Linked DNA regions of Homo sapiens. The protein of the gene in region 3 interacts with the protein of the main gene of each other region in a biochemical or structural test. Each region holds a gene or a part of one and is shown on either strand. Other genes may lie near its edges.

The links.
Region 1: the proteins of PTPN1 (region 3) and NTRK2 form a complex in vitro, tested with the Homo sapiens proteins (2 studies listed by BioGRID, with this or other methods).
Region 2: the proteins of PTPN1 (region 3) and BCAR1 form a complex in vitro, tested with the Homo sapiens proteins (3 studies listed by BioGRID and IntAct, with this or other methods).
Region 4: of the proteins of PTPN1 (region 3) and PRKCA, one has a biochemical effect on the other in vitro, tested with the Homo sapiens proteins (one study listed by BioGRID).

Annotation. Positions count from the first base shown.
Region 1 is NC_000009.12:84,665,811-84,672,739, forward strand, and holds the start of NTRK2 (BDNF/NT-3 growth factors receptor isoform a precursor), read left to right. Parts: upstream 1-3,918; 5' UTR 3,919-4,078; exon of another isoform or gene 4,079-4,411; intron 4,412-4,538; exon of another isoform or gene 4,539-4,566; 5' UTR 4,567-4,938; coding exon 4,939-5,150; intron 5,151-6,280; exon of another isoform or gene 6,281-6,361; intron 6,362-6,929. UniProt on the Homo sapiens protein: Receptor tyrosine kinase involved in the development and the maturation of the central and the peripheral nervous systems through regulation of neuron survival, proliferation, migration, differentiation, and synapse formation and plasticity.
Region 2 is NC_000016.10:75,234,609-75,241,629, reverse strand, and holds part of BCAR1 (breast cancer anti-estrogen resistance protein 1), read left to right. Parts: intron 1-2,969; exon of another isoform or gene 2,970-3,536; coding exon of another isoform or gene 3,537-3,539; intron 3,540-4,285; coding exon 4,286-4,447; intron 4,448-4,631; coding exon 4,632-4,748; coding exon of another isoform or gene 4,749-4,802; intron 4,803-5,643; coding exon 5,644-6,741; intron 6,742-7,021. UniProt on the Homo sapiens protein: Docking protein which plays a central coordinating role for tyrosine kinase-based signaling related to cell adhesion. Implicated in induction of cell migration and cell branching. Involved in the BCAR3-mediated inhibition of TGFB signaling.
Region 3 is NC_000020.11:50,505,377-50,513,382, forward strand, and holds the start of PTPN1 (tyrosine-protein phosphatase non-receptor type 1), read left to right. Parts: upstream 1-5,006; 5' UTR 5,007-5,151; coding exon 5,152-5,214; intron 5,215-8,006. UniProt on the Homo sapiens protein: Tyrosine-protein phosphatase which acts as a regulator of endoplasmic reticulum unfolded protein response. Mediates dephosphorylation of EIF2AK3/PERK; inactivating the protein kinase activity of EIF2AK3/PERK.
Region 4 is NC_000017.11:66,305,599-66,312,619, reverse strand, and holds part of PRKCA (protein kinase C alpha type), read right to left. Parts: intron 6,525-7,021; coding exon 6,493-6,524; intron 1-6,492. UniProt on the Homo sapiens protein: Calcium-activated, phospholipid- and diacylglycerol (DAG)-dependent serine/threonine-protein kinase that is involved in positive and negative regulation of cell proliferation, apoptosis, differentiation, migration and adhesion, tumorigenesis, cardiac hypertrophy, angiogenesis, platelet function and inflammation, by directly phosphorylating targets such as RAF1, BCL2, CSPG4, TNNT2/CTNT, or activating signaling cascade involving MAPK1/3 (ERK1/2) and RAP1GAP.

The DNA.
Region 1 (6,929 bases), on a different chromosome or scaffold from region 3:
TGTTATTGGTCCTTTGTGTTTTCTCTTTTTTATTTCTGATCAGTTGGACTAGCTGTTTTTATTGATCTTCACAAAGAACCAGCTCTTGATTTAATTAATTTTCTCTATTGGTTTTATGTTTTCTATTTCATTATTTTCCACTCTGCTCTGTATTATTTCTTCTCTTCTGCTTACCTCGTGTTTAATTTGTTCTTTTTTTCCCTCTGATTTCTTAAGGTGGAAGCTGAGGTCATTGGTTAGAGATCTTTCTTCTTTCCTGATACAGGAATTTAGTGCTATAAAATTCCCTCTAAAAACTGCTTTAGTTGTATCACACAAATTCTGATACATAGTGTTTTACATTTTCCTTTTGATTTGTTTTAACTCTATTCGCTTTAATCTTTTGCGTGCTTCTTTCTCTGGCCTCAGGTAGCTTTATTACCTGCATGTGTCAATCAGCACTATGCTGAATACTTGAGAGGAACCCTCTGCAGATGTCCATAGTTCTTTCTGGGCAATACTCTTCTCTTTGCTACTCTGTCTTGTGAACTCTGCACTCCTTGATTTCTCTTGAGCTAGTCTCCTCAACTTAGGTAGATGGCCTCTGCCTGGGTTCCTTCTCTCTGAACGATGACCTTCATTGTCTTATATCCATTGTCTTAACTTTAATATATTTTGTTCAGTGTTTTGGTCATATGATTGAGAGAACAAATCCGTTCCCTATTACTCCATTTTAATCAGAAGTTGGCAGTATTCTTGCTTATTTTTTTACAACTCAGTATTGGATGTTAAAATCAATGTATTGAGTTATTACATGCATTCAGAAATGAAATGGTGTAGAAGAGAAAAGGATATATTAGTTTATGTACTAAGGGTAAGTAAGTTTTGTATTATGACACTTCTTTTTTAGTTAGTATATGCCTTTATGTATGTGTTCATTGGGTTGTGATATAAAAGGCATTTCTTATTGTGGATCATGGTCAAAAGAGTTTGAGAAACATTGCTCTAGGTACATCATGGTTCAGTGCAGGTAGGAACCTGCAGCACTTAATTTCTATGCCTGCATTCAAGGGATCTAGAAAAAAGTCATCTCTATATTGTTCATCTGAAAAATGTTCATCATCTCTTACAAAGGTGTGATCTGAGAATCCTTGAAGTGATCTCTGGGACATATCTTATAGGTCTTAAAATCGAGGTAGATCCACAATTCTATCAGTTAAGAAATAGCTACTGATCACCAGTGTGTTCTAGACACTGTCCATGGAGGTGTTCAGTTACTAGCATGAATAAGTGGGAGGCCCTCTCTGGCCCAGTACTGAAGCCTATCTGGCTACTAAATGAGACAGAAAGTAAGGCAAGGTTTTAAGCAGTGCTAGGAGCACTCAGAACGCAAGGAAGATTTGAAATTGTGAAGGTGAGAAGGAGCGTGTCTGGGGGAATTATCCAGGTTCTTGCAGACTTAGAGGTTAAGAAAGTGAGATCTCCTTTATTTTATTTTATTTATTCATTAAAAATACACATATATTTTAACACCTACTATGTCCTTGAGAGATATCAATGAATAAAATAGATAAAAATCCCTGCCTTCATGGAGTGTACATTCTTCTGGGAGAAATTTTAAAAATATATATAATAAGTAAATTATCTGTCCAAAGGACAAACTGCTATGGTTGAAATAGTAGAGCAGAAGTAGGGTGATTAGAAGTAGGACCGCAAATCCTAATTTTAAGTGGGAGATAGTGGAATATATTTAGAATCCAACTATAATAGTAGCATATATTTACTCTAATAGAAACTCTACAAATATTCCAACATAATTAGACTCTTCTGGTGTACAAACCACCGTAAGACTGCCTATTCTCCATACCGCATTGACATGCTGCAGCCACTAGGGCGAAAATGGGCCGTTTCTTAGAAAAATGGGCTCAGAGTATGGGAGTGTGAGAGAAATGTGGGTGATTACGCACACACTCCTTCCTTCCCCAAGTGTTCCTCAGGGGCTTCTCCGCTTAAGGTTCACTGACAAGACAGGCGGAGTTTTACGTGCGTCTGAGACCAGGTCATTTTTGCCCTTGGCGTCTCTTCCTTGGCGCGTCCTCACCTAGTAGAGAATAGAGGCGCAGCTCAGGAGTAAACTTCAGCCTGGCCGTTCACCACTCGATGTGTGTTACAGCCGAGTGACAGTGGTGAGATAGACCTGCTGGCCTTGCTTTCGGGACCTGCAGCAAGATTTTTGGGTGCTGTCCAAGAATTCCCGCGGTTACACTCAGCGCCCAGGATCTGTACAAAAAAGCCCCAATAGATGTTTTACGTTCCCTTCGTAATATTTAACGCTTGGCCTAGATCCGAGCATTCACTCTAACGTTCGGTTTCTTGATCCTTCCCATCCCCAAACTCTGCGGGTAGATCAGTGACTATTACTATATTTTGAACGAGACTCCAACCCATTGCTCTCTCGAGAGAGAAGGATTGCCCGCCTTTTTCCCCCGGGCAGGAGCTCGGCGAGGCCAGGAGAGCCGCGCACCGGCCGGGCAGGGACGCGCAGGCGTCGGGCGCCGCTGGTTGCGCATCTGGCGCCAGAGCGCGCCCCCAGCGCTGTGCCCGCCGCGACCCGGGCCATGGGCTGGTGCTCCGGAGCGTGCCGGGCGCTCTCTCCCCGCGCGGGGGCACCAGAGCCCTCGGAAGTGTCAGGCACTGCGGTGTATTTTCCCCGTTCTCTTTTAAATGACTGCGGAAAAACAGATTCCGAGCCGCAAAAGGGAAGACGGATTCTCAGACAAGGCTTGCAAATGCCCCGCAGCCATCATTTAACTGCACCCGCAGAATAGTTACGGTTTGTCACCCGACCCTCCCGGATCGCCTAATTTGTCCCTAGTGAGACCCCGAGGCTCTGCCCGCGCCTGGCTTCTTCGTAGCTGGATGCATATCGTGCTCCGGGCAGCGCGGGCGCAGGGCACGCGTTCGCGCACACCCTAGCACACATGAACACGCGCAAGGTACGGCAGGGGAGCAAGGGCTTGGGATGCCCTACGTGGGGGTGGGCATCGCGGGGAGTGAATCCACGATCTGGGAATGGCTACATCCCGTCAGGTTAAAGGATGAGAGAAAATGACGCGGCGCCACACATCGGACAGGCCAGGGTGGCCACCGAGCATTTAGAATACGCATCAGGCGCGCTCCCTTCCCCTCACATGTCTCTATTTCCCGGGCGTGTGATGGCAGAAAACGGCAGGAAAAAGACCCACTTAGAGAGCTAGAATTGTGTTTGGAGACTCCCTTCCCTCTGCAAAAGCACCAACAGGAAGCCCCTCCAAAACCACCGATCCCCAAATAGGTGGCCCGGAATGGGGGCGGTGATCCTTGGTTACCAATGCAGAACACGTTTTGGTGTTTACAACATTTATTTATTTTTAGGATAGCTTGCCCTCCCTTTTAGGCAGGGTGGGAAAGGAGAACGCGGGGAGGGAGAAGGGAGGGAGGATTCCTATAATAAGAATCAGCGCATTTTTCAGAGCTGAACCAAGCACGGTTTCCATTTCAAAAAGGGAGACAGCCTCTACCGCGATTGTAGAAGAGACTGTGGTGTGAATTAGGGACCGGGAGGCGTCGAACGGAGGAACGGTTCATCTTAGAGGTACCTGGATGTAAATGCACACACACACACAGACACACACACGCACGCGCGTGCATGTCTACACGGCCAGGATGTGTGCGTGTGTGCGCGCGTGTGTGAACTCCCACATGCTGCTGCTGTCTGCTTCTGGCCAGTGGCACCGATGCCTCCCTCCTCCCTGCTCGCCCCCAGATTCCCCTCCCCTCCCTGGTGCTTTTGTCTGGAGGGTGTTATGGGTTTGTGTGTGTATGAGCGTGTGTGTGTTTTTGGATTTCAGACTAATTTTCTGGAGTTTCTGCCCCTGCTCTGCGTCAGCCCTCACGTCACTTCGCCAGCAGTAGCAGAGGCGGCGGCGGCGGCTCCCGGAATTGGGTTGGAGCAGGAGCCTCGCTGGCTGCTTCGCTCGCGCTCTACGCGCTCAGTCCCCGGCGGTAGCAGGAGCCTGGACCCAGGCGCCGCCGGCGGGCGTGAGGCGCCGGAGCCCGGGTGAGCAGCGCAGATAGTGCCCTCGGTCGCCTCGGCCCTCACTGTCTCCCCCTGGGGCGGCCTCGGCTACTCCCCAGGTGGGACGTGCCGCGCCACCTGCCCGCGCCACCGGCACCCAGCGGCCGTGGCGGATTCTGCAGCATCATTCGGGGGCCCCGTCGCGGAGCCAAAGCCGCCGGCAGTCTCCGCATTCCCCTTTAAAGGGTCCTTCGCCCGGCCTGTACCATGGAATCCTGTCTTGGGGACCCTTTCCCTACCTCCCCTCCCTTGGCCTCAGGCTCGAAGAGAGAGTGGGCACACTGGTGGCTCCAGCGGCGTCAGTGCCATCGCGGGGCAAGTTGATTCCTGGGCCGGAGCTGGGCACTCATCCATCCACAGTCTCCGGGCTGGGGTCGGGGTGGGGATGACGCGAGCAGAGAGGGAGAGTGCCCCAATTAGTGGTGTTGGGGGTCCTACGCTCAGTCTTACGCGTGTCTGTTTGTCCTCAGCCTCGAGGTGCATACCGGACCCCCATTCGCATCTAACAAGGAATCTGCGCCCCAGAGAGTCCCGGGAGCGCCGCCGGTCGGTGCCCGGCGCGCCGGGCCATGCAGCGACGGCCGCCGCGGAGCTCCGAGCAGCGGTAGCGCCCCCCTGTAAAGCGGTTCGCTATGCCGGGGCCACTGTGAACCCTGCCGCCTGCCGGAACACTCTTCGCTCCGGACCAGCTCAGCCTCTGATAAGCTGGACTCGGCACGCCCGCAACAAGCACCGAGGAGTTAAGAGAGCCGCAAGCGCAGGGAAGGCCTCCCCGCACGGGTGGGGGAAAGCGGCCGGTGCAGCGCGGGGACAGGCACTCGGGCTGGCACTGGCTGCTAGGGATGTCGTCCTGGATAAGGTGGCATGGACCCGCCATGGCGCGGCTCTGGGGCTTCTGCTGGCTGGTTGTGGGCTTCTGGAGGGCCGCTTTCGCCTGTCCCACGTCCTGCAAATGCAGTGCCTCTCGGATCTGGTGCAGCGACCCTTCTCCTGGCATCGTGGCATTTCCGAGATTGGAGCCTAACAGTGTAGATCCTGAGAACATCACCGAAATGTGAGTTCCTGGAGCTTTTCCTCCTTTTTCTCCTTGCCCCTAGGGCCCGAGCTGGCCAGGTGGGTAGGTCCTGGAAGTGAATGCTGTCCCAAGAGTGGGGAGAAGTCAAAGACAAGGGATGCAGGACAGGGTCATCTGTCAGTTACCTGCTGTTTCACTGGCTTGGGACTGCTAGTGCAGGGAGAAGTGTGACACTTTAGAATAAGTTTCAAATATAGATATACATATGCCGATTATATATTTATTCCTCGTGGGAAGGAACTCACTATGCTTTTTATATTTCAAAGCTCTGCTGGGTGTGCTTTAGGCTTTCAGTATGCACTAACTTAGTTTTGGGCATTTTTGTTTCATAAAGTGCTGTGTGTATGTTGTGTTAGAAGTTCCATTAATATTCACTAGAAAAGAGGTTAAAATAATTAACTTTCCCAAATCTGTTGAGGGAAGTGACAGTCTCTCCCTTAACATCTTTTTTGAGATTTAAGTTAACCAATTTCCCTTTTCATTTTATATATCGGATTTTGCTTAGGAGATGGCATCCAGAGATGGCCTTGAAAATGATCTGTAAGAGGAGAAGTTCTGAGTGTTGAAATGCACTCGCTCAAAAGAAAAAAATATGATAGTTGGAAGCCTAAAAGCCTGGTCTAATTTAATTTGGACTTGACTTCCCAGAGATATGATTTTGAGACCACTTGGATTATAACTCTTAATTGCCCATTGAATAATTTCCCAGGACTAGGTTGGATGATAAAGCACTGGGTAGAACTCTGATGAAGGCTGGCTTTAGCATTGGACCTCTGTGTCCCTGGAAATGTTTGAGCTTGTTGTGGCTTGAAGAAACAGAACTGTGTATTTCTATTCTCCTTTTCTGATGCTTTGTGACAAATGCATCACCAAGCAAGAACTTGCCAGTCCTTTCTCTAGCATTCCTGTGTCACCTCTACTGGACTGTTATTGTTATCATTTTTTTCCTGAAGGATGCTGTCATTCCATACATCTCATTAACATGAGATTTTATTCGTATACGTGGAAGATTGTAAGGCAAAGTTTCTCCCAGTTTTCCTTATTGTGTTTGATACTGAGATAGGCAGCCCTAAAGTGGGGCTTGGGCTGTGGCCTTCCGGTTGTCGAGTGCGCATGCATTTTTCCTTCCACAGAAAACATACAACCATGTTTCTGCCAACGTAGTTGACCAAGATAACCTGTTTTTTAATGTAAGTAAGAGACCTTCCTAGTCTCTGTTGCCTGTTCTGCTGCTGATGCTTATGGTGTAAGCCTCAGGCAAAAGGAAATGACAGCAGAGCAGAGGGGAATGTTCAGGCCTAGCATAGCTGAGATGTGTCGGGAGCAGCCAACTGTCGGGCTGAGTCCAGGGTGCTAGGATCTCTATCTTTTTGGCAAGGAGAGCAGGAGCCAAGAGCGGAGAGCAAGGGTGGATAGGGCCCCAACTGTGGTGGTCTTGGACTGGGCTGGTTGAGGCTTACCAGGCTGGTCCAAAGTCTGTGGCCTTTTGTCAGAATCTTTTTCATGAGATGGGGTGTCAGTAGTTAGATGGAGAAGGCCATATGGAATTCAGAGTGCTTCTGACTGTTTTGAGATTATGGGGAGTGCCTTCCACAGTCAGATATTGTTGTGTGTGTGTGGTGGTGCTTTTAAAATTCTGTTTTAGGTGATAGATGCATATAATGAAGAAAGAAAGAAGATAGGGCTGATCATTTTCACTTTGTTTTTCTGTTTGATAATTTTAAGGCCATGATCTGAGAAAAAGGAAATAAAACTATC
Region 2 (7,021 bases), on a different chromosome or scaffold from region 3:
ATGGGCCACCAAGCCTGGCCACCAGGGGAACCTGGGTCACTGGCTCCCACTTCCTGCTCTACCTGCTCCTTCAGCCATCTGGTCAGAGGCGAGCCTGGCTGGCGTGGGGTGCCTGGGTGGGGGTGCTCCCAAACTGGCTTTAGCAAGAGGAGCAGGGTCCTGTTATCCCCTGGGGAGGCGGCAGGGAGCAGTGTCCTGTAGGGGAGCCTCAGGCCACAGTCCAGGTATACCCACACCCCACACAGATGAACACACGTGCATGATGCCTGTACCCCACAGATACGAACACCCATGCACACACCATATGCACGAACACACACATGCGCTACATGAATGTGCGTGAATACATGCACATATCTGCATCCCATACCCCATAAATGGACACACGTATACGCCCACACATGCGCACATCATATGCATGAACACGCACACACCCAAACCCCATATGTGTAAACACACGTGCATACTCACCCCACACACAGACACGTGTACGTCCACACATACAAAGCGTGTGCACCCACCAGTATCCCACAAACGTACAAATGTATGTGCGTATGCACACGCACACACAGTCCACACTGCACATGCCCCAAGGTCAGGCACATCCCCACCCCTCCTCTCCCGCCTTTGCAGTGAAGCTTGTCCTGGTGCGGCTGGAAGCCCTGTGGGCTGGGGAGCAGCAGCGAGACCCCCAGACAGAGCCCGGCCTCGAGGCTGTGTTTTGGCAGCTGTTCTGTCTCCGTCTCCGGCAGGGGGCCTGCTCTCAATTGCATCAGGGGCTCAGCCAGCTGGGTCCTTCTCTGCCCATGCCCACTGGTAGAGCTGCCCAGACCTGTGCCCCAAGGGCCCTGACCTGGCTGATGGCCCAGGAAGGAGAGCCCTGTGTCCTGGGCCTGGCTGCTCTCCCCCAGGAAACCTCCCCCAGTCTTGATTGTGTCTGCTTGTATTTTATGATCACAAAAGCAATGCTTGTTTGCTGTAGAAAATGCATAATGTATGGGAAAGTCTGGAGATGAAATTTTCCAATCGCGGTAATCACTGGGAAATTCTGGCATATTTTGTCTAGTATCTGCCCTGTGTTTCACAGATTTATACATGCAGTTTTGCATTTCAAAGTTGTAAATCCAACATTAGATATCAAAAGCATTTTGTTGAATTCTTAAAGCTTGTCCCTGAGCCGCCTTGGACTTTGCTGGGTTGCCCCCTCTGCTGGGGCGGGCCCTGGGCAGTTTCCGATTGCTCATGCCTTCATTACGGTGGCACGGCGGTAACACCTGGCTGCGGGACATCTGTGTCTGAACCTCCAGGTGCTCCCCTCCAAGCCTCAGGCCTGCCCCTCAAATGCCTGGGAAACTGAGTCTCCCAGTTCCAGGGTAGTGGTTGGCTGGGCTGAGAAGGAGCCCTTGCCAGGACTTCACGTGGGCGGGAGGGACACTGGCTCTCAGGAAGCCAAGAGGGTGAGTGACAAGGATGGTGGCCAGGAGGGTCAGAACCCTGGGCCCTGGAGCAGGGTCCAGTGGTTGCTAAGGTGGGAGCCTGGTGGCCCGTATGGCTGAGGGAGAGGTGAGGGCCACACTGGCACCGAGACTCTTTGGGCCGGGTGTGGGCTGTAGGAATCTGAGGGCAGAGGCTCTTTCATGGTCAGATGGGACCCCCGGGGGAAGGCGTCTGTGGGAGGTCGCTCAGGTAGTGCCCCTGGTCAGTGTCTAAGGAGACAGCCATGGCGTGAGGTCAGGCGTGCACGTGGTCCTGTCGGGCCTGTGTTTCACCCTCCTCGCCCTAGAAGCTTCATCTTGCCCCAGGCTCCCCTGTGCTGGGACCTCAGGCTGGGGTGCCTGGAGCTGGGGAGGGAGGGGAGCGGGCTATGGTGGTGGCCCCTCAGGCCACCATGACCCAGGTCGGGTGAGCCCCTCATGCTGGGGTGTGTCCTGGTGGCCGTGGTCGCAGCGCTCCTGTGGTGCTCCATTTCCCAAGGAGGAAACGAGGCTCCTGGATTGGGACCTGGGGGTGCCAGAGCCGGGAGCCAACCCAGGTCAGGGGCGACACCCATTTTGCAGAAGGGGGAGACCAGCCACTGAGCTCCAGGGCGGGGGCCCACTTTGTCCCCTTCCTCCGACCTGACACCTGCCTCTGGGGCCCTTACCGGGAGGCTGGGATGTATTCCTGAGTTCGCTTGTCCCCCCGCTTGATGCCTGATAGTAGGGGAGGAGAGGGGCGGCACCCTGGCCCTGGGGCTGCCTGGGTTCTGTGCGTGCACCTGGCAGTGGGCCTGTGCTGTGTTTTCTCTGCATTGTATGAGGCATGTGTGTCAGAGACCGTGTGGGTCTTATGTCAGTGACTGTGCCTCTGTTCTCTCCTCCTGGGCTCTGGCTGTGTTCCCCTAACCCCCGGGGGACCTCCACGGCCTGCTAGTGGGGTCTCAGGTGTGCAGCAGGGTGGCCTGTGATTAGCAGTGGGGCTGAGTCATTCCCCTAAAGAGCTTTTCCCCCTGGTGGCTGCGTTGCTCTGTTTTTCTAACAGAAACATTTGGTCACTGTGGCTGCCTACTGCCACCCGACTCAGCTCCAAGAGTGGCAGGCGGCCATTTGCCTGGGGAGGCAGGCCTGGGTCCAGCTGCACCCCTGGGCCTCACCGCGTGAGGTTGGGATGGCCACCGGCAGGGTGCTTTTGGAGGATGCTCATCCCTCCTGCTGGTGCTGGGTCCTGGCTGAGCCTTGAGGCTGGGTCCCCACCTGCCTTTGGGAGGCTGGGAGGCCTGGAGAAGCCTCAGGCCGTGCCTCGAGGCCCAGCCAACCTGCCACGTCCCTCCGCCCCGCCTGCCCCGCTGTTGGCAGGTCCCTGCATCTAAAAATAGTTCTGGAGGAGACTCAAGTCTGGGGCGCGTGGAGGGAGATGAGTCTGGAGAGGCAGCCGCCAAATCCACTCCCAGACGCACTGGAAGGGGGCGGGGACACCCCACGGAGGCCCCCAGCCGGGACTCTGCTACCAGGCGTGCTGGAGACCTAGTGGGCCCAGTTCTGCTGCGCTGCGGGGGGCTCTGCCAGGCCTGCGGCTGCTGGGGGGTGCTGGCGCCTCTGCCACCCCCATGCTCAGCGCCCCCCTCACAGCACCCTCAGCAAGCAGGGCTGGCTGCCTGCCTGCATTGGGAGGGCCTCTAGGGGTTCAGGGGCACTGGGCCCGGGGGAGGGGCTGCTTTGGCGCTGCTGCCCTGGGGGATGTGCGGGGAGGCCCTGAGTCAACCCTGTCCCAGACATCCCCTTTGATGAAGGAACAAAAGGTCTTTCAGTGGAGAGAGCTGAACAGGGAGCCTGGTGGTGGAGGCGTGTGGGCGCAGTGTGCCCGGGGGCTGGAGAATCCCACCAGGGAGGCCTTGACCTCCCCAAGGCAGGGAGACCTTCAGGGAAGGAGGCTGCCTGGCATGGCCCCTACCCGCTTCAGGCTGGTGCTGGTGAGGGGTCCTGTGGCCCTGGGCAGGCCATTGTGCTGCCTGCCTCTTCACCCACTGTGCGGGCCTTGGCTTCCCTGGGCTCTGGGTCATGGTAAGAGCACCTGGGGAGGGGAGGGCTGGCCCTGGACCCACTTCCCCCACTAGGCCTCATCCTTTCAGGTCGCTGGGGATCTTACCTGCTGCAGGCAGCTCCCCCGGGGCAGGCGCGGCAGGGAGGGGGCCTTGGTCCCAGCTGCTGCGCCCCCCAGCACACACCCAACCTGCCCCTCTGGCCCTGTCCTCCAGAGTCTCCCCATGCTGTGCTGTGGGGCAGGGGGTGCTAGGCTCTATCTGGTCCTGGGCCGGATGCAGTCCCCTGCTGGGCCAACCCTTCTGAGGAGGCTACAGCTAGGTGGTGTGGGCAGCAGACTCCCAGGCCTCCGACGTGGCCTCTTGTCCTGTGGGGCTAGGCGCCCCAGTAACGGGGGGTTCCTTGCCTGTGGGTAGTGCCCTCCAGAGCCAGGGCCTCAGCCCCTCACCCCACCGGTGTCATCAGCTCATACCCATGCTCCTCTGTGGAGCCTTCTGGGTCAGCAGGCTGTAGAGACGTTGGTGTCCTGGCCCAGGACGAGGCAGCTCTGAATAAAACCCAGAGTTCTTGCCGTACCTGGCACTGCGTTCTGCTAGAGGAAGGTCAGATGGTGCAGAGGGGGTGAGAACTGGCATCCTTGGGGAGCCCCGTCCCTTCCACCTGGTGTGCCCTGCCCACCTCCTAAAAGGACGTGGCTCCCAGGTGTGAGTGGAGCCTCCCTAAGGGCTGGTTTGAGGGCAGCAGTGAAGTCGGCTCTCTGCCCCCAGGTGGTGGTGCCCACCCGCGTGGGGCAGGGCTATGTATACGAGGCCGCCCAGCCGGAGCAGGACGAGTACGACATCCCGCGACACCTGCTGGCCCCGGGGCCACAGGACATCTATGATGTGCCCCCGGTTCGGGGGCTGCTTCCCAGCCAGTATGGCCAGGAGGTAGGTGTGGGGTGCGCAGCGGTGGGAGGGCAGGGCGGCAAGTCTGTGCCTCTGCTTGGCCCTGGGCCGAGAGCTGCATCTTCTCAGCCCCGGCCAGGCCTGGGGACGGTGCTGCGGGGTTCCCACCTTTCCTATTCCCCCAAGTGGCCCTGGCGCCGTTAACCCTGCACTGTTTCTGCCCCAGGTGTATGACACACCCCCCATGGCTGTCAAGGGTCCCAATGGCCGAGACCCGTTGCTGGAGGTGTATGACGTGCCCCCCAGTGTGGAGAAGGGCCTGCCACCGTCCAACCACCACGCAGTGAGCAAATGCCAGGGCAATGCCAGGGCCAGGCTGAGGCTGTGGGGTGTCTGGGTGTGTGCACAGGGGTGCTGACCAGTGTCTGCAGGGCTGGGGGTGGCGGGCAGGAAGAGACTGGCTCCAGACCCTGGTTCTGGATGGTTGACAGATGAGGAAATCAAGCTGTCTTCTGAGCCTCAGGTTCTTTGTCGGCAGAACCGCCTGTTGCGAGGCCTTCTCCATGAGCTCCTGAGAGGGTATCCGCAAGGTGACCACGGGATGTGTCATCTCACCTGGGATACTTCCAAGAGTGAAGGGGGGACTAGTAATTATGTGGGGGCATCAGGGACAAACCAGCACTGTCCTGGGCAAACCAGAATTTGGTCCCCTGATAATACACACAGAGCTCAGTCGCACACCTGCTGCAGAGTAGAAAGTTCACACGTGGTGGTGGTGCTGGGTGGTAACAGTGATGGTGGTGATGAGGTGGCAGCGGCGGTGATGGTGATGAAATCATGATATGATGGTGGTGGCAGTGGCAGTATCACAGCTAACCTTTCAGTGAGTGTCTGCAGTGACACAATTATGTGAATTAACACATGCAATTCTTTGGGAGGAAGCTCTCCCACCTTCAGGCACAGGGGTGGTCACCTGGCTCCAGAGCCGGCTCGTCCCAGAGCTGTCATGGATAGGAATTGTGAAGGATGTGTGTGCTAGGGCTGCGAGTGTGTGTGCGCGTGTGTGTGCCTGTGTGCGTGCCTCTGCATTTGTATGTGTGCCTGTGTGTGTGCGCGTGCCTCTGTGTGTGTGTCTGTATGTGTGTACGTGTGTGTGTGTGTGTGGCTGGGTGCTGCCCCCAGTCCCTGGGGTGGGCAGATGGACAGATGGACAGTCTTGACCACCGCTTGTCCCCCAGGTCTACGACGTTCCTCCATCGGTGAGCAAGGATGTGCCCGATGGCCCACTGCTGCGTGAGGAGACCTACGATGTGCCCCCCGCCTTCGCCAAGGCCAAGCCCTTTGACCCGGCCCGCACCCCACTGGTACTGGCTGCGCCCCCTCCAGACTCCCCGCCGGCCGAGGACGTGTATGACGTGCCGCCCCCGGCTCCTGACCTCTACGACGTGCCCCCTGGCTTGCGGCGGCCTGGCCCGGGCACCCTGTACGATGTGCCCCGTGAACGGGTGCTTCCTCCTGAGGTGGCTGATGGTGGCGTGGTCGACAGTGGTGTGTATGCGGTGCCTCCCCCAGCTGAACGTGAAGCCCCGGCAGAGGGCAAGCGCCTGTCGGCCTCCAGCACCGGCAGCACACGCAGCAGCCAGTCTGCGTCCTCCTTGGAGGTGGCAGGGCCGGGCCGGGAACCCCTGGAGCTGGAAGTTGCTGTGGAGGCCCTGGCACGGCTGCAGCAGGGTGTGAGCGCCACCGTTGCCCACCTTCTGGACCTGGCAGGCAGCGCCGGTGCGACTGGGAGCTGGCGTAGCCCCTCTGAGCCACAGGAGCCGCTGGTGCAGGACCTGCAGGCTGCTGTGGCCGCTGTCCAGAGTGCCGTCCACGAGCTGTTGGAGTTTGCCCGCAGCGCGGTGGGCAATGCTGCCCACACATCTGACCGTGCCCTGCATGCCAAGCTTAGCCGGCAGCTGCAGAAGATGGAGGACGTGCACCAGACGCTGGTGGCACATGGTCAGGCCCTCGACGCTGGCCGGGGAGGCTCTGGAGCCACCCTTGAGGACCTGGACCGGCTGGTGGCCTGCTCGCGGGCTGTGCCCGAGGACGCCAAGCAGCTGGCCTCCTTCCTGCACGGCAATGCCTCACTGCTCTTCAGACGGACCAAGGCCACTGCCCCGGGGCCTGAGGGGGGTGGCACCCTGCACCCCAACCCCACTGACAAGACCAGCAGCATCCAGTCACGACCCCTGCCCTCACCCCCTAAGTTCACCTCCCAGGACTCGCCAGATGGGCAGTACGAGAACAGCGAGGGGGGCTGGATGGAGGACTATGACTACGTCCACCTACAGGTGGGTGCCGCCTGCCCAGCCCCGGCTCCTCTTCTGCCACGCTGGGCTCCTGTGCTTAGGGGGAGATTTGTTCTCAGCTGGGGCCTGGTCCCTGGCAAGGCCCTGCACCCTCCTCTCACTTTGACCTCCCTCACCCCACATTGGCCCCATGTGCTAGGGTGGCCATGTCATCGAGCCCTTCGTTGAGTCCCTCGGGCTGGTATCTCTGGTGACCAGCAGCGGTGACTCTGCTGTTCTGTGTGGGGAGACAGATCTGCAGAAATGTGCACACACACAAGGA
Region 3 (8,006 bases):
GAATGGAAGGGCAAATTAGCTGGTACCTGAAATTAGGGGTTTCGTTCAGGATCAATATTTGTGGCAAGGTTTCACTCTCTGCCACTGTAGTAGATTGAGTGGAGGCCTCCAAAAAGATATGTCCAAGTCCCCATACCTGTAAATGTGACCTATTTGGAAAAAGGGTCTTTGCACATGTAATAAATTTAAGAATCTTGAGATGGGATTGCCAAATCGTTCTGGATAGGATGAGCCCTGAATCCAAAGAGAGGCATCCTTGTAGGAACAGGGCAGAGGGAAATGGGGCAGGCAGAACAGGAGATACAGAGAAGAAAGTCTGCCAAGACAGAGGCAGGGATCAGAGTGAGGCAGCCACAAGCCAAGTAATGACTGGAGCTACCAGAAGCTGGAGAATGCAAAGGAGGACCCTCCCCTGGAGCCTTCAGAGGGAGCACGGCACTGTCAACACCTTGATTTTGGACTTTGGGCCTCAAGAACTGTGAGAGAATAAATTTCTGTTACTTGAAGCCACCAAATTTGTGGTAATTTGTTACAGCAGCCACTGGAAACAAGTACAGCCTCTAAACAGCCCAAACTTGGACCCTGCTTGAGGCTGCCTCCAACTCCCCTCTCCCCCACCAAGACCCTGTGTATAGCTTCGGCCCCATTCAAAGGCTACTCCAGGCTGGGTGCAGTGGCTCATACCTGTAATCCCAGCACTTCGGGAGGCCGAGGCGCGCGGATCACCTGAGGTCAGGAGTTCGAGATCAGCCTGGCCAACATGGCAAAACCCCATCTCTACTAAAAGTACAAAAATCAGCTGGGCGTGGTGGCGCACACCTGTAACCTCAGCTACTAAGAAGGCTGAGGCAGGAGAATCGCTTGAATCCGGGAGGTGGAAGTTGCAGTGAGCCAAGATCACGCCATTGCACTCCAGCATGGGTGACAGAACAAGACTCTAACTCAAACAAAACAAAACAAAACAAAACAAAACAAAACAAAACAAAACAGGCTACTCCAGTCACTGGGCAGCACCCCCTGCAGGCGTGAGGGCCACTTGGGCTTGGGATGGGCATTTATTTACTTACTTAGCTTGACATACAGGGACAGGAATGAACCAGCCCTGTTTTTGTTCCAGGATGCTCTCAGGATTGTGAGTTCCAGACAAACCAGAACCCAAAAAGTATAAGGGTTTAAGGGCGGGAGGAGCACAGGAGTCTGGACAGTCACTTAAAGGAACTAAGACTTCAATTAGGTAGCTTCCAAGTGTGGCAGCTCCCACAGTTTTCACTGGAATGGGCATTTTTGTTAATTTTTCCCCTATGGAATGCTCACTTTCTAAAGACACTGCTGATCAAGCTAATTGCATGTATTCAATAACATTTCATTTATCTCCTTTATTTGCTATTATTTAAAGATATGTAGTAATGACAGTTAATATTTATTGAGCCACTCAGTATACTAAGAGCATGATATGTACTCATCCAACCTTCACATCAGCCCTATGAGGTGGGCACTTTTATTATCTCTGTTTTACAAAGGAGAGCAGAGACTAATGAAAATTTGCCCAAGTTTGCACCACTAGTATTTATTCAGCTGGAACCTGGACCCACGAAGCCTGGCTCCAAAGCAGGCTCTGGAAACCAGGCTAGAATGCAGGTTTCCATACCAATGTGCAATGCTACTCTGGACAAGTAATTTTGTCTCTCTGTGCTTCAGTTTCCTCATCCATTTTTTTTTTTTAAGACAGAGTCTTGCTCTGTCACCCAGGCCCGAGTGCAGTGGTGTGATCTTGGCTCACTGCAACCTCTGCCTCCCAGGTTCAAGCAATTCTCCTGTCTCAGCCTCCCGAGTAGCTGGGTCTACAATCACACGCCACCATGGCTGGCTAATTTTTTTGTATTTTTAGTAGAGATGGGGTTTCACCATATTGATCAGGCTGGTGTCGAACTCCTGACCTCAGGCGATCACCCGCCTTAGCCTCCCAAAGTGCTGCGATTACAGGCATGAGTCACCGCACCCGGTCCCCCCCTCATCTAATTTTTTATTTTTATTTTAATTTAATTTATTGTATTTATTTATTTATTTTTTGAGATGGCATCTTTCTCCCGTCGCACAGGCTGGAGTGCAGTGGTTCAATCTCGGCTCACTGCAACCTCCACTTCCCAGGTTCAAGCCATTCTCCTTCCTCAGCCTCCCAATTAGCTGGGATTACAGGTGTGCACCACCACACCCATCTATTTTCTGTGTTTTTAGTAGAGACAGGCTTTCACCATGTTGGCCAGGCTGGTCTTGAACTCCTGACCTTAGGTGATCCACCTGCCTCAGCCTCCCAAAGTGCTAGGATTACAGGTGTGAGCCACCAGGCCTGGCCTATTTTTATTTATTTATTTTTTTTGAGACAGTGTCTCACTCTATCGTCCAGGCTGGAGTGCAGTGACATGATCATGGCTCACTGCAGCCTCAATCTCCCAGGCTCAAGTGATTCTCCCATCTCAGCCTCCTGAGTACCTGGGACTACAGGTGCACGCCACCACAGCCGGCTAATTTTTTTTTTTTTTTTTGAGACAGGATCTTGCTCTGTTGCCCAGGCTGGAGTGCAGTGGTGCAATCTCAGCTCACTGCAGCCTCTGCCTCCCAGGTTGAAGTGATTCTTGTGCCTCAGCCTGCCGAGTAGCTGGGATTACAGGCATGCACCACCACACCCTGCTAATTTTTGTATTTTTAGTAGAGTTGAGGTTTCACCATGCTTGTCAGGCTGGTCTCGAATTCCTGACCTCAAGTGATGCACCCACCACGGCCTCCCAAAGTGGTGGGATTACAGGCGTGAGCCACCACAGCCAGTCAGTTTTCTCGTTTATAAAATGGGAATAATAGCACCTGTATTGAAGGGTTGTTGTGGAGATTGAATGGGAATGTGTACTTAGAATTCCAGGCATAGTGCCTGCCACAAGCACTCAAGGAATGAGCTGGAGTTCAGCTGATAATACCAGGCAGTGTCTCTGGGCAACACGGAATGAAGACAATTCTCTCTTCCAGGTTTTCAAACCTCCTGGAATTCACAACGTCCACATGACATGCCAGGCCCAGAGGGGGATGGTTTAAACTGGAGCCTGCAGGAAGGCAACCTGACCAACCTGCTCATGGGTGCTTTAAGGATCATAGGTACGAGAATCAGCTGGAGTTGTTGGTGAAAATGCAGATTCCGGGTCTCATCCCTAGACCAAAGATATCTGAATCATTTGGCGATGGGTCCAGGAACCTGCATTATTCAACACACTTCCCAGGTGACCGTAAATGTCAAAAGACAAAATTACAACAAACTTAAACATCTTAATTGGCTTCATTCATGATTCTAGAATCGGGCAAGACTTCATTCCTCAAAATAGCACAAGTGTCCCAATGAGCTGAGCAGAGGAGGTTGGTTTTATAGACAGAAAAGGGCTGAAAAAAGCAGAAACAAAGAACAAAAAGCAGATTGGTCATTTCAAAGTTACTTTCCTTGTAAGGCAGGAACAGGGAAACAGAACAAGAGAGAAATAACTGATTGGTCGCATCGGGTTACTTCAGGTTACTTTTTGTTGTAAGGATTAAAGCAAAGGGAACTTCATTATGTTGATTAAAACGGTCTGCTTGGGAAATCAGGGTGTGTATCTCTCTTCTGATTTTGTGAAAGGTTATCAGTCTGATGATGTAGAACTTTAGCATGAGTGACTCCATTTTGATTTTTAGTCTAGTCTGTTGAGACCCTAATGCCAGAACTTTTTTTGTTTGTTTGTTTCGCTCTTGTTGCCCAGGCTGGAGTGCAGTGGAGCTATCTTGGCTCACTGCAACCTCTGCCTCCAGGGTTCAAGCGATTCTCCTGCCTCAGCCTCCCAAGTAGCTGGGATTACAGGCATGCGCCACCACGCCCGGCTAATTTTTTTTTTTTTTTTTTTTTTTAGCAGAAACCGAGTTTCACCATGTTGGTCAGGCTGGTCTCGGACTCTTGACCTCAGGTGATCCACCTGCGTCGGTCTCCCAAAGTGCTGGGATTACAGGTGTGAGCCACCACACCCAGCCCTTTTTTTTCAAGACAGGGTCTCTCTCTGCCACCCAAGGTGGAGTGCAGTGGCGCCAAAACAGCTCACTGCAGCTTCCACCTCCTGGGCTCAGGTGATCTTCCTGCCTCAGCCTCCCCAGCAGCTGGGCCCCACCACACCGGCTAATTTTTTAACTTTTAGTAGTGACGAGGTCTGATTCTGTTACCCAGGCTGGTCTGGAACTCCTGGCCTCAAGACATCCGCCTGCCTCTGCCTCCCAAAGTGCTGGGATTACAGATGTAAGCCACCGCGCCTGGGCTCCTATGATTTTTATTTAACATAATGCACCATGGAATTTGTGCTCTGCTTAGTTCAGTCTGAGCAGGAGTTCCTTGATACTTCGGGAAACACTGAAAATCATTCCATCCCCATCCATTCATTCCTGCAGCACCCAAGTGGAAATTCTGCGTTTCAGACAGGGACACTACCCTTAGAGAGCAGTGGGCTTCCCCAGCAGCGTAGTGAAACATGATACTCCTGAGTTTCATGAAAAAAGGGCAGACATCTGGCCAGAGCTGGGAGGCAGGAAATAGAGCACGGTGCCCTCCTCCCATACTCCAGCTTGGATTACTGAGGCTGGGGCCCAGGCCCTGCAGGAAAGGAGGTGCATGACTACTTTAAGGCCACTCACTCTGTGACTCAACGGGCCGGGTCGGGGCTGGAACTCAATGCCCTCCCGGGCCTGGAGAGCCCACGCGCCGTGGGCGGGGCTCCCGGGGTCGCCTAGGCAACAGGCGCGCGCCGCGCCCGAGCCCAGAGCCCCAAAGCGGAGGAGGGAACGCGCGCTATTAGATATCTCGCGGTGCTGGGGCCACTTCCCCTAGCACCGCCCCCGGCTCCTCCCCGCGGAAGTGCTTGTCGAAATTCTCGATCGCTGATTGGTCCTTCTGCTTCAGGGGCGGAGCCCCTGGCAGGCGTGATGCGTAGTTCCGGCTGCCGGTTGACATGAAGAAGCAGCAGCGGCTAGGGCGGCGGTAGCTGCAGGGGTCGGGGATTGCAGCGGGCCTCGGGGCTAAGAGCGCGACGCGGCCTAGAGCGGCAGACGGCGCAGTGGGCCGAGAAGGAGGCGCAGCAGCCGCCCTGGCCCGTCATGGAGATGGAAAAGGAGTTCGAGCAGATCGACAAGTCCGGGAGCTGGGCGGCCATTTACCAGGTGCGGGAGCGCCCCGGAGCGTGGCGGGCCCTTCGCTTAGGCCGCTTGAACATCCCCTCAGACCTCCAGGCCCCAGACTCCCTCTGGGTCTTGCCCTCTGCCTCGCTCCTACTGCTTGAGGATTCGATGGGACAGCGACGCACTGCGTCCCCCCACCCTTTGTCCCCGGGGCGGGCGTGTTTCTCGCCGCAGCGTCGGAGCCCCCTTCGATCCCCCACCTCCCTTCTGTTCTCCAGCTCGGGTGATCTCTCAAGCCGGGGGACCGCCGGTCTGTGCTCTCAACGCGAATCCCTCGCACCCCGACCCCGCCCCCTGCCTGTCCACTCTTTGTCCCCTGGGGTGATTTAGCACCCCCACTATTTCCTTTTCTGGAGTGGACCACCTCAGACTCTCTTCCTTTGTCTCCCTGGGGGAAAAGGTTACTCCCCCCGTCCCTCCTTCACATTTCCTTTCCCCTAGTCTCAGTGTGCGTCGAGTCCCAGAGATGACAGTCCCCTTTCCCCTTTCTGTTCATTCATTTATTGGATAGGAGTTGGCAAGCTTATTCTGTGCTAGGCACCGCTTAGGCATTGGAGGTGGTGTTTGCTAATCAGGACAGGCAAGATCCTAGCCTTAGTGGGGCCTAGAGTCGAATAGGGCAATCAAACACAAAAGCAAATAATTTCAGATAGTGACAGGTGCTGTGAAGAGAACGACTTCCTAACGGGGTACAGGGTGACTGCATAGAAGGCCGGCTGTCTTAGAGAAGGGGATCAGGGAAGGCCTGTCAAAGGAGGAGACATTTGCTTTGTGAGCTGAACCAAGAGGAGCAGAAAGCCGTGAGAATATGGGGCTAAAGAACCTTCTAGCCAGGAGGCCTGCGGTACCCACTCCATTGGGGCCATGATATTATTCTTTCAGGCAGGGACTCAGGAAGGTTAACGTTTTAACCCTCTCTAAAATAGCATCTTTCCTCAATGAGCAGCTTAGTCTTTGGTCGTGGCAGAGATGACCTTGTCTTAGGAGTCATCTCCTTGTGTGTTAAAAAGTTAGGAAAGGAGGGTTTCTCATATATCTATAAAACAAGTAGTTAAAAACACAAAGAGCTCTTCCTTTCACAAGCAGCTGAATAAGATACATACTCCCAATTAAATGTCATTGCGGGGGTTGTTAAGATTAACTAAAACCACACTTGCACAGTATCTTAAATAAGCGATATACAGAATAGAGAGATTTTGTTACTTGTGTAAAGGGAGACAGCAGATGATTCTGTTTTCAGCTTATAGGCTCAAAAGGCAAATTGTGAGATCCATCAGCTGTAGTATTAAAATCTATTTTGAGCTCCGCTTAGAAAGGAAAAAAGGTTTAAGCAGTTCTTTGGTATGCTTGACTAACAAAAGCCTTTTTTTTTGGCAGCCTTGATTTTCATGTGGATTTACATCAAGCTTATTTGACAGGATTCTTTTTATTTGGACTGTAGTGTGTATATTAGTTTCTGCTAGACTAATATTTCTAACCACTGTAATCTATATACTAATAAGTATGATTGATCAGTATATAAAATTTGTATGCCATATCTGGTCTCTGAATTAGCTGAATGAATTCCATAAGGGACTTTGAGACTGTGTAGACAAATTTTCTGCATCAGTTTAATGCAGTAGAGTCTAAAATGTCTTTAAATGAAAATTGTTGGTCTGAAGTGTTGGAGTTGATTATGATACACCCCATCACAGTGGAAGCATTGTGGAGAGAAGTCTTTTCCACTGAAATTGACTGAGTTGACAACAAGAAATACGTATTGTAACTTAGTTCTTAGTTGAATTTTATTTCTTACAATTTTAAGCCAGAGTGGGTTGACCTGTCACCCAAGCATGGTTAAAATTGTATTCAGCATGCAACTAGCATGGAGTGTGTCAGTCTTCAATTCATTTCCTTCATTGTTCTTAAGTTTTTCTGCCACAATTAAACCCCACAAGTTAGTCAAGGTGTTGAGATTTTCACTGCTTCTTAATGGATTGCCACATTCCCTGAGGTAGTTTCTTTTGGTCTTAGAGAATTGTCAGGGCCAGCTTTTCTCACCTCCACTGTATGGATATTTTTCTTTTCTAAGATCTTGAAATCAGAAGCTTTTCTCCTAAGTGTAAAAGTAGCTCTTTGTCATACAACTGTAGCGTTTTCTGAAACAGAGTTCAGATGACCTTGAGTCTAAAGTGGCTAACTTTCCAAGGTGTGTATCGCTTTACCAAAACCATTATTTTTCAAGGATTCAAAGAATGTGTTTACAATTGATAGAAAATGGAAGTTTAAAAAAATTAATACTTTATAGCATGTTGAAATGAGGGCAGCCTTATACAAAGTCATACTTTGAGCTTGCCTAGCCTATTGTGATCAGAGAATAATGTAATTTTTGCTTACAACTTGGTAAGCAGGTCAGTTATTCTAACTTATTTTCTGATTAGAACAAAAAGATGTAAAAACTTGAAAACTATTGGGAAAAGAACAAAGAGTGAAGAGGACTTTTGAGTGCTGAGGAATGTGGCAGCTTGGAAAACAAACTTTTTAGGCAGAGATTCTTTGCTAGGTCAGTTTGATAAAGTGAGCATAACCGTATTTTTAATCTTTAATGCTAATGAATAGCATAGATGCTAATAAGCATCTAGGTCTATAAAAAGTCAGCTTTGATAGTGTATATAGATGGCTTTAAACATTGTTTTCTAGCATTTAAACACTTTCAAATCATCCGGTTGCTTGATTGGGCCTAGCTGTCTAAGAGGAGAGAATGAGCCCAGATGAGGAAAAGAGATTGATTTTAC
Region 4 (7,021 bases), on a different chromosome or scaffold from region 3:
GAAAGAATTGAAACAAGCACTTTCTGGGAAACTGCAACTTATTCACAATGACCCAGGGATAGGAAGAAGGAAAGCATTGTAGGTAAGTCTGAAGAGGTCAGGCAGGAGACTTTAAGAGTCTTCCAATGTCTTGCTAAGGAGTTGGACTTATCCTGATAGGGCAGCTGTGAAACTAATGCTATTTGGAAATGGAATACTCTGAATCTGCATGAAGAAAAACAATTGAGCAAGTGAGGAGTTAATGTGTCTAAAAACTTAAATTTCAATAGTATCATCCAGGAGAGTGAAATACTCGGAGGGCAGGAAACCACCAAAAAATGTAAAGAAAAGGAAACTCTGGTTGGGTGCAGTGGCCCACGCCTGTAATCCCAGCACTTTGGGAGGCTGAAACAGGAGGATCACCTAAGGTCTGGAGTTCAAGACCAGCCTGGCCAATATGGTGAAACTCCGTCTCTACTAAAAATACAAAAATTAGCTGGGCATGGTGGCATGCATCTGTAATCCCAGCTATTCAGGAGGCTGAGGCAGAAGAATTGCTTGAACCCAGGAGGCAGAGGTTGCAGTGAGCCAAAGTTGCACCATTGCACCGCAGCCTGGGAGACAAGAGCGAGACTCCATCTCAAAAAAATAAAATAATATAAAGAAAAGGAAACTCAAACATCAGATTTATCTGCAAAAGTAAACATTTATTCGGCTTTCACGACCTATGAGGATAAATAGCCTCTCCATATGCTACAACCCCAGCTTCTGGTGGCGGGGGTAGGATTGATGTGTGAATAAATTAACGAAACACTTTCACTTACCGTATAAAGTAAAAGAGTAGCAATTCAGAAAGTCATTAATCAGAAATCATTTTATAACAAGTATATAGCACCAAATGGGAACACTCAACACTAGTTTTATCTAACCATCCCTACTTCTAAGTATTAATGCAGTTTTACGGAGGAAAAACACTGTTGAAAAGAAAAATAGCATTTTTTGTTATTGTTTGGTTTTGTTTTTTGAGACAGGCTCTCACTCTGTCGCCCAGGCTGGAATGCAGTGGCACGATCACACCTCATTGCATCCTCGACCTCCCAGGCTCAAGTGATCCTCCCACCTCAGCTTCCCAAGTAGCTGAGACCACGGGTGCTGCACCACCATGCCCAGCTACTTTTTCTATTTTTTGTAGCGATGGGGTTTTGCCATGTTGCCCGGGCTGGTCTTAAAGTTCTGGGCTCAAGCAATTCGACCGCCTCAACCTTCCAAAGTGCTGGGATGACAGGCATGAGCCACTGCACCCAACCACAGAAAGGCAGTTCTAACTGTCCACCTCCACCACTTTTCTCTGTAATTCAGGCATTACTGACCATTTCATCTTTGAGACTGAGATAATGCTTTGACCTGGCATTACTACAAAAACTCTAGGTTTCAAATTATACTCAGTCTTCCATGCATTCTATCTTTTTGGAACTAAACCTCCAAGAGTTTATCTCTAATTAACATAACTTACAATTTGGGGATGGGTAACCAATCAAAACTGAGGTACCAAGGGCTGAACCCCTCCTGAAGACAGAATAATGGAAAACCCTGGCACTAACTTTGAAAACCAGCGGGCAGCCAGAGGCCACACAGTGCAAGCAGCGGTCAATGCAGTACATAGGGAGGACAGATCCTCTGCTCAAGTTGGCCATAGGGAGGACAGACAGATCCTCTGCTCAATCTGGCCTACCTCATGATTCCACCCAACTTGTACCTCAGTCTCCTATCTCCTGGTACTTGGTGTCCATACAACTCAGCTCTCAGAACACCGTGGCGGATGAGGACAACGGCGCATCCCTTTTCTGAAAGGCTGGTGACTCACTCGCTACTGCCCCCTTTCTGTTTAAAGGCCACCTTCCTTAAGTAGTCTTGTTTTCTGGAATCCCTCAGCTCACACAGCCAAGAGGAGACTCATTCTTTTTTTTCTTCCCTTAAACACCAACTTTCATTCTTACAGAAGGAATAGAAATCACCACCCTGCTCAGATGAGCCAATGCAAATACCTTCTCTGAAACAGGCCTTCAAAACAAAATATCAAAGGGGAAGAGTAGCTGATTTTTTAACCCTTAACACTGAAAAATGCAGAGCTTCAGTTGAAGTCACAGATGAAGTACAATATGTGTTATGTTCTTAGCAGGGAAATGACTCAAGATTCAAAACAACTTTAGTAGCATCATTGAAAGCACAAAAATGTAAATTCTTTCCCAGCAGACCCCTCAAAATCCAGTGACGATCATTCAGGGACAACAGGCTCCTGTTGGTCATGGTTACTGACAGAGCTTAATTCTCACGCTGTCTCTTGAGTATCTTCACCTCATCAAAGAGCCTAGGTTTGTAGCACATTTTCATTTGTGATATTAAAAGACAAAGAATAGCAAAAAAAAAAAAAAATTAGAGAAAACAAGTGGAGGTTAGGCAGATGAAACAAACTATGTTAACTGTTTGGCATTTGAAATAGGCAGGTCACATTTTGAGAGGCTGTTTCTACCACTGTAATTAGAGAAGTGCATGGGTGTTGCTCCGCCTAAGGAGGGGGAAAAAAATCGAGTTGGCTCTTTCCCTTTTCCAGTACTGAAAGCAGTGGATAACACTGTTTCAGCTCCACTGCCCCAGAGAAAGAGTGCATTTGAGCAGTACAGTGGATCGCTCTGTTCTCTGATGACTGACTTTGGAAGTAGCCAGTGCAAGACAGAAACTACCAACTGGAAACAGACCTTCCAGACTTGAAACTCAACTTCATCAATGTCCATACCACACAAATCTACTTCCTGTCTTCTTCTCCTTTCTCTGACGGGGGAAAAAAAAAGTGGGCAAGGACTAGATCTCTGCTAGTTTTATGGAGATGAAATGAGTGCTAGGGGTACATCAAGCAAAAAAACATTCAACCAAAAATAAGAAGGCAACTCCAAGTCATGTAAAAAGGGTCACTTCAGAGCTGTGAAGGAACACGCTTGTCTTTATCTCTGAGGACCTTAAGAAAAGTATTTCCCACTTGGAAATCTACTACACACTCATCTTTCTCCTCCCCAGAAGAATGGCCCTTGGTTTCACCGTTTCAGGCAGCAAATTCTGACAACGGGATCCTGTGTTACTTGCCCTGGTAATATCAGTTTTCAGGATTGTATACCTATATTGCAATATAAAGAAGAATGGCACAGAGTCCATGAAGGGAACATGAGAATAAGCCAATAAGTCTCTCCAGAGAAACGCCCTTCCCTTCCCCAAGATACAACATAAATGAAAGTAGAAATAACTTTAGTACTTCACATGCTTGTAAGATGCCATTCTCTAAATGGCATAAATTACAAACCCAGTTTTAAGGACTAAAACTCACTTATTTCTTTAGTCTTCAAATACCTACTCACCATTTACTAAGTAAAATGAAGATAAATATTTTGGATCTAAAGCTATATTACTTACTGCATGAATATGTGAGTCACTGGGAGCATACACACCCCTCTAGTTAAAAAAAGAAAAACTATGCTTGCTGCAGATATTTTACCTACTAACCAAAGCAACATACTACATACTAGTGGACAGAAAGCACTGCCTCATCGGGTAAAAATAATCTGATGTATGAGGAATACAAAAAGCAGTTTCAAACTCCAGCTGTCATTTCCAGAGAGTGTGTTGCCAAAGGTATGAATGAGAATGAGTTATTCTCCTGCAGAAGAATGATGTTCTATCAAACAAAACCGAGGAAAAAAAAAACAAAATTAGAGAGCATTAAAAGAAAACTTCACTCTACGATAGTCAGATGTTAATAGAAAGATTAATTTTGCGGTAGGAGCCAAAACAGAAAATGCTGGGTAACTATATTTGTGGGATTAAAAGCATCACCCTGAGGTAACATATCCTTCTTAAGTTACAACAAACAATAAAATACAATGGACTAGCATATGCCTACTAGAAGTCAAATACAGATGAGACACAGTAAACAAAATATAACAAGCAGACAGCATGTTACAAATAAATGTATACTATTGGAAAAGGTCTCTGTGAACTGTAATTTGTAAACGCACTAGGGTAATTCATTATTTAAAGAGATCTGAGGTTAAATTCTTCACCAAAGCAAAGAACTATATAGAAAGCACATAGTCACTTCTCTAATTTGTCTGGTTTGTAAATCCAGAGTTTCAAATATTAGGTAGAGTAAGGCAATTCACACAACACAAATGGCTAAAACACATTTGAAAAAAAAAGTTCAAGCTCACCCATAATGCAGGAGATGGAAATCTAAAAGAGGGGCCCCTTTTCACCTACCAGATTGGTAAAAAATGTAAAAGATGTATATTACCCGATATCTTCACTGGTAAAAATGAAGAGGAAGTCCCATTAATACAAAAAAATGTGCACTGGAACTCTTGAAGAGCAATTTAGCAGCACCCGTTAAAATGTAAGATGCACACATACACACTTCTGGCTATCTATTGTAGAAATACCTATACTAGTGTCCAATAATGCTCTTGACAAAGGTATTTGTACTAGTAAGAACGAATTACAAAATACCCCTTGATAGAGGAATGGGTGAATAAATTGGATACATCCACACATGCAGCCACTAAGCAGAGTAAGGCAGAACTGATGCTTTGATGTGGAAGAATATCCACCATCTACTGCTGAGTGAAAAGAGCAAGTTGCAAAGTCGTATAAAATTTTGATCTCCTTTTAAAAACTAAGTATGTGTGAGTGAGTGAACGAATGGTTGTCTCAAACAGAAGTTATCTCTGGAGGAGGGAAAAGAGAAGCATATGCAATTTCACTTTTTATTTTATACAGTTTAAAATTTTTATGGGTTTCACTTTTTTAATTTAGGTAAAAGGGAGTTATGTTGCCATGAAACTATTAATCTGCTAATCCACTAAAAGTTCAAGAGATGCTCTGGGGGAAATCATGCAAAACCCCCTAGAGCCTAGTAATACGGCCACTGTGATTTCCACAAAATCTGCTCAGATGAGCGGGTCTAAGAGGAACCAACCTTATTCTAATCAACCTTATTTTTTATTTATGCAGAAAATGATAAAAGTTTTAGAACAAGACAACCACTTTCTCCCAGACAAGCAGTATGGAGAAGATTCAGTACAAAAATTTTCTTATAGATTTATGTAAGTCCCCACCCAAACGAAAAATATCACCAAAAATAACAGATGTCAATCACATTGGCCCAGAACCTTACATCTTTAAACTCCCTAAAGTCATGTTCAAGCCTAGGCTCAAATCTCACCCATAAAGTTCAGGCCCACAACTTTGAGAACTAGAAAGAGCTACATTTTCCTTTCATCTTTTGTAGAGACTGGTATAACACATCTTTCTCTTTCTTCTCTTTTTAAAAGGAATATCCCTTGATTTTCAAATGCAACTCTGAAAATGATACACTCAGTAGGGGTTTTAAGCACATCTTGGAGAAAGGAAGGTAGAATATTAAATGAATAATCATACCATAAAATACTCCCATCTAAAATATGTTTAGAAAATGTATACAAGAAACAAGTTCACAAATTTGAACTAGTTTTTAAAAGGCAACCAATTTACTAGCACAATCTCAAAGTTGTAAAAAAGTACACAGTGCCTTTCTCTCTAATGCACTTAATATTAAACAGTGTTAGGATAATATTTTCCAGGCTAGAATGTACTTTCTGCTTGCCCTAATAATAAATCTATGCCCAGATGGGAAATGGAACCAGAACTAAATAAACACAATATAGACAATGAGCAGGAGAGCCAGAAAAGTTAGCTAATGAGCCTGTGATGCCTTCACAAGCTCTAAAGTGGGTTTCTTCAAAAAGGAAAAGTCAAACAATTAGAATGGAGAGTACAAAAAGTTAGATATTCGATGTGTGTGAAATGCAATTACAGATCAGAGGGTGAAGCAAATGGATTTCTTTCTGTATGTGATGGCTGATATCACGTTTTGTCAGATATGTAAGCTGAAAGGAAAGCATGCTACATAGTCATACCATAGAAATCAGTCATCAAATCATCAACAAAACTTTAAAACATGCAAACTTTGTTCTCGATGACAACTGGTATTCTAAACAAAACAAACCCTTACTAGAATGAAATACGGCCTAAAATTAGTTGCAGTGAGTCCAACTCAATACATAAGTAAAAGCGATGAAGAATAAAAACAAAGAGGAAGAACAAGGAAGAAAAGCCACTTGAATACAAAGTGATTCCATTTTTTTCTCAACACCCACACAAAGACAGCAGTTTCTGACAAGAATGTTCTCGGCAAAAAATAAAATTACAGAAAGGCTTTTTTTTTTTTTTTCCAATGAGAAAAAGGCAGCTCTATATGCAGATTAGTAGGCCCCAATTATTTTTTAAGGCCCAAATTTACAGCCCTCATATTTCAAAATTATCTAAATAACATTTTTTTATTGGAAAGAAAATATGACTGGAAATAATGTTCTTGTTTGGAATGCTTATTTCATGTTGTGCTTGAAAATAAAACCAAAAGTGGTAGCTTACCTTGGCACTGGAAGCCTTGTTTCCCAAACCCCCTGAAAAACAAAAACAAGAACAAAATATCTTAACATATTTTCTGTTGGATAGCATATTTTAAACAAGTTATGTGACCAAGTACTCTACCACTAAAGGTTTGTATGTGAAACCCAATGATTTAATAGAAAAAAACATACCTAAATATCTAGTCAGATTACTGTGTAAATTCAACCTTGGGGGGAAAAAAATCTTGCCTATAAAGGATCACTGAACTATTTCGATGTATCAACCTTTTTTCCAATTTTTTATACTATGTTATCAATACTAAAATTTCAAGACAAGAACATGACTGTATATTCAAACTTGTTGGCTACAACACAATATTCAAGTAACAAAACAGTTTATGGTTAAAATTGTAAAAGGAAGTTGCTTATTTTGTTCCTGAAGACCAAATGAAAATTGTTTTTATCTCCCTAAAGATAACAAAGTGGCTTCTTTTTGTTTAAAATATCACATGTCTAGAAACTGCCAAACGGCATCACTTTTAACATTTAAT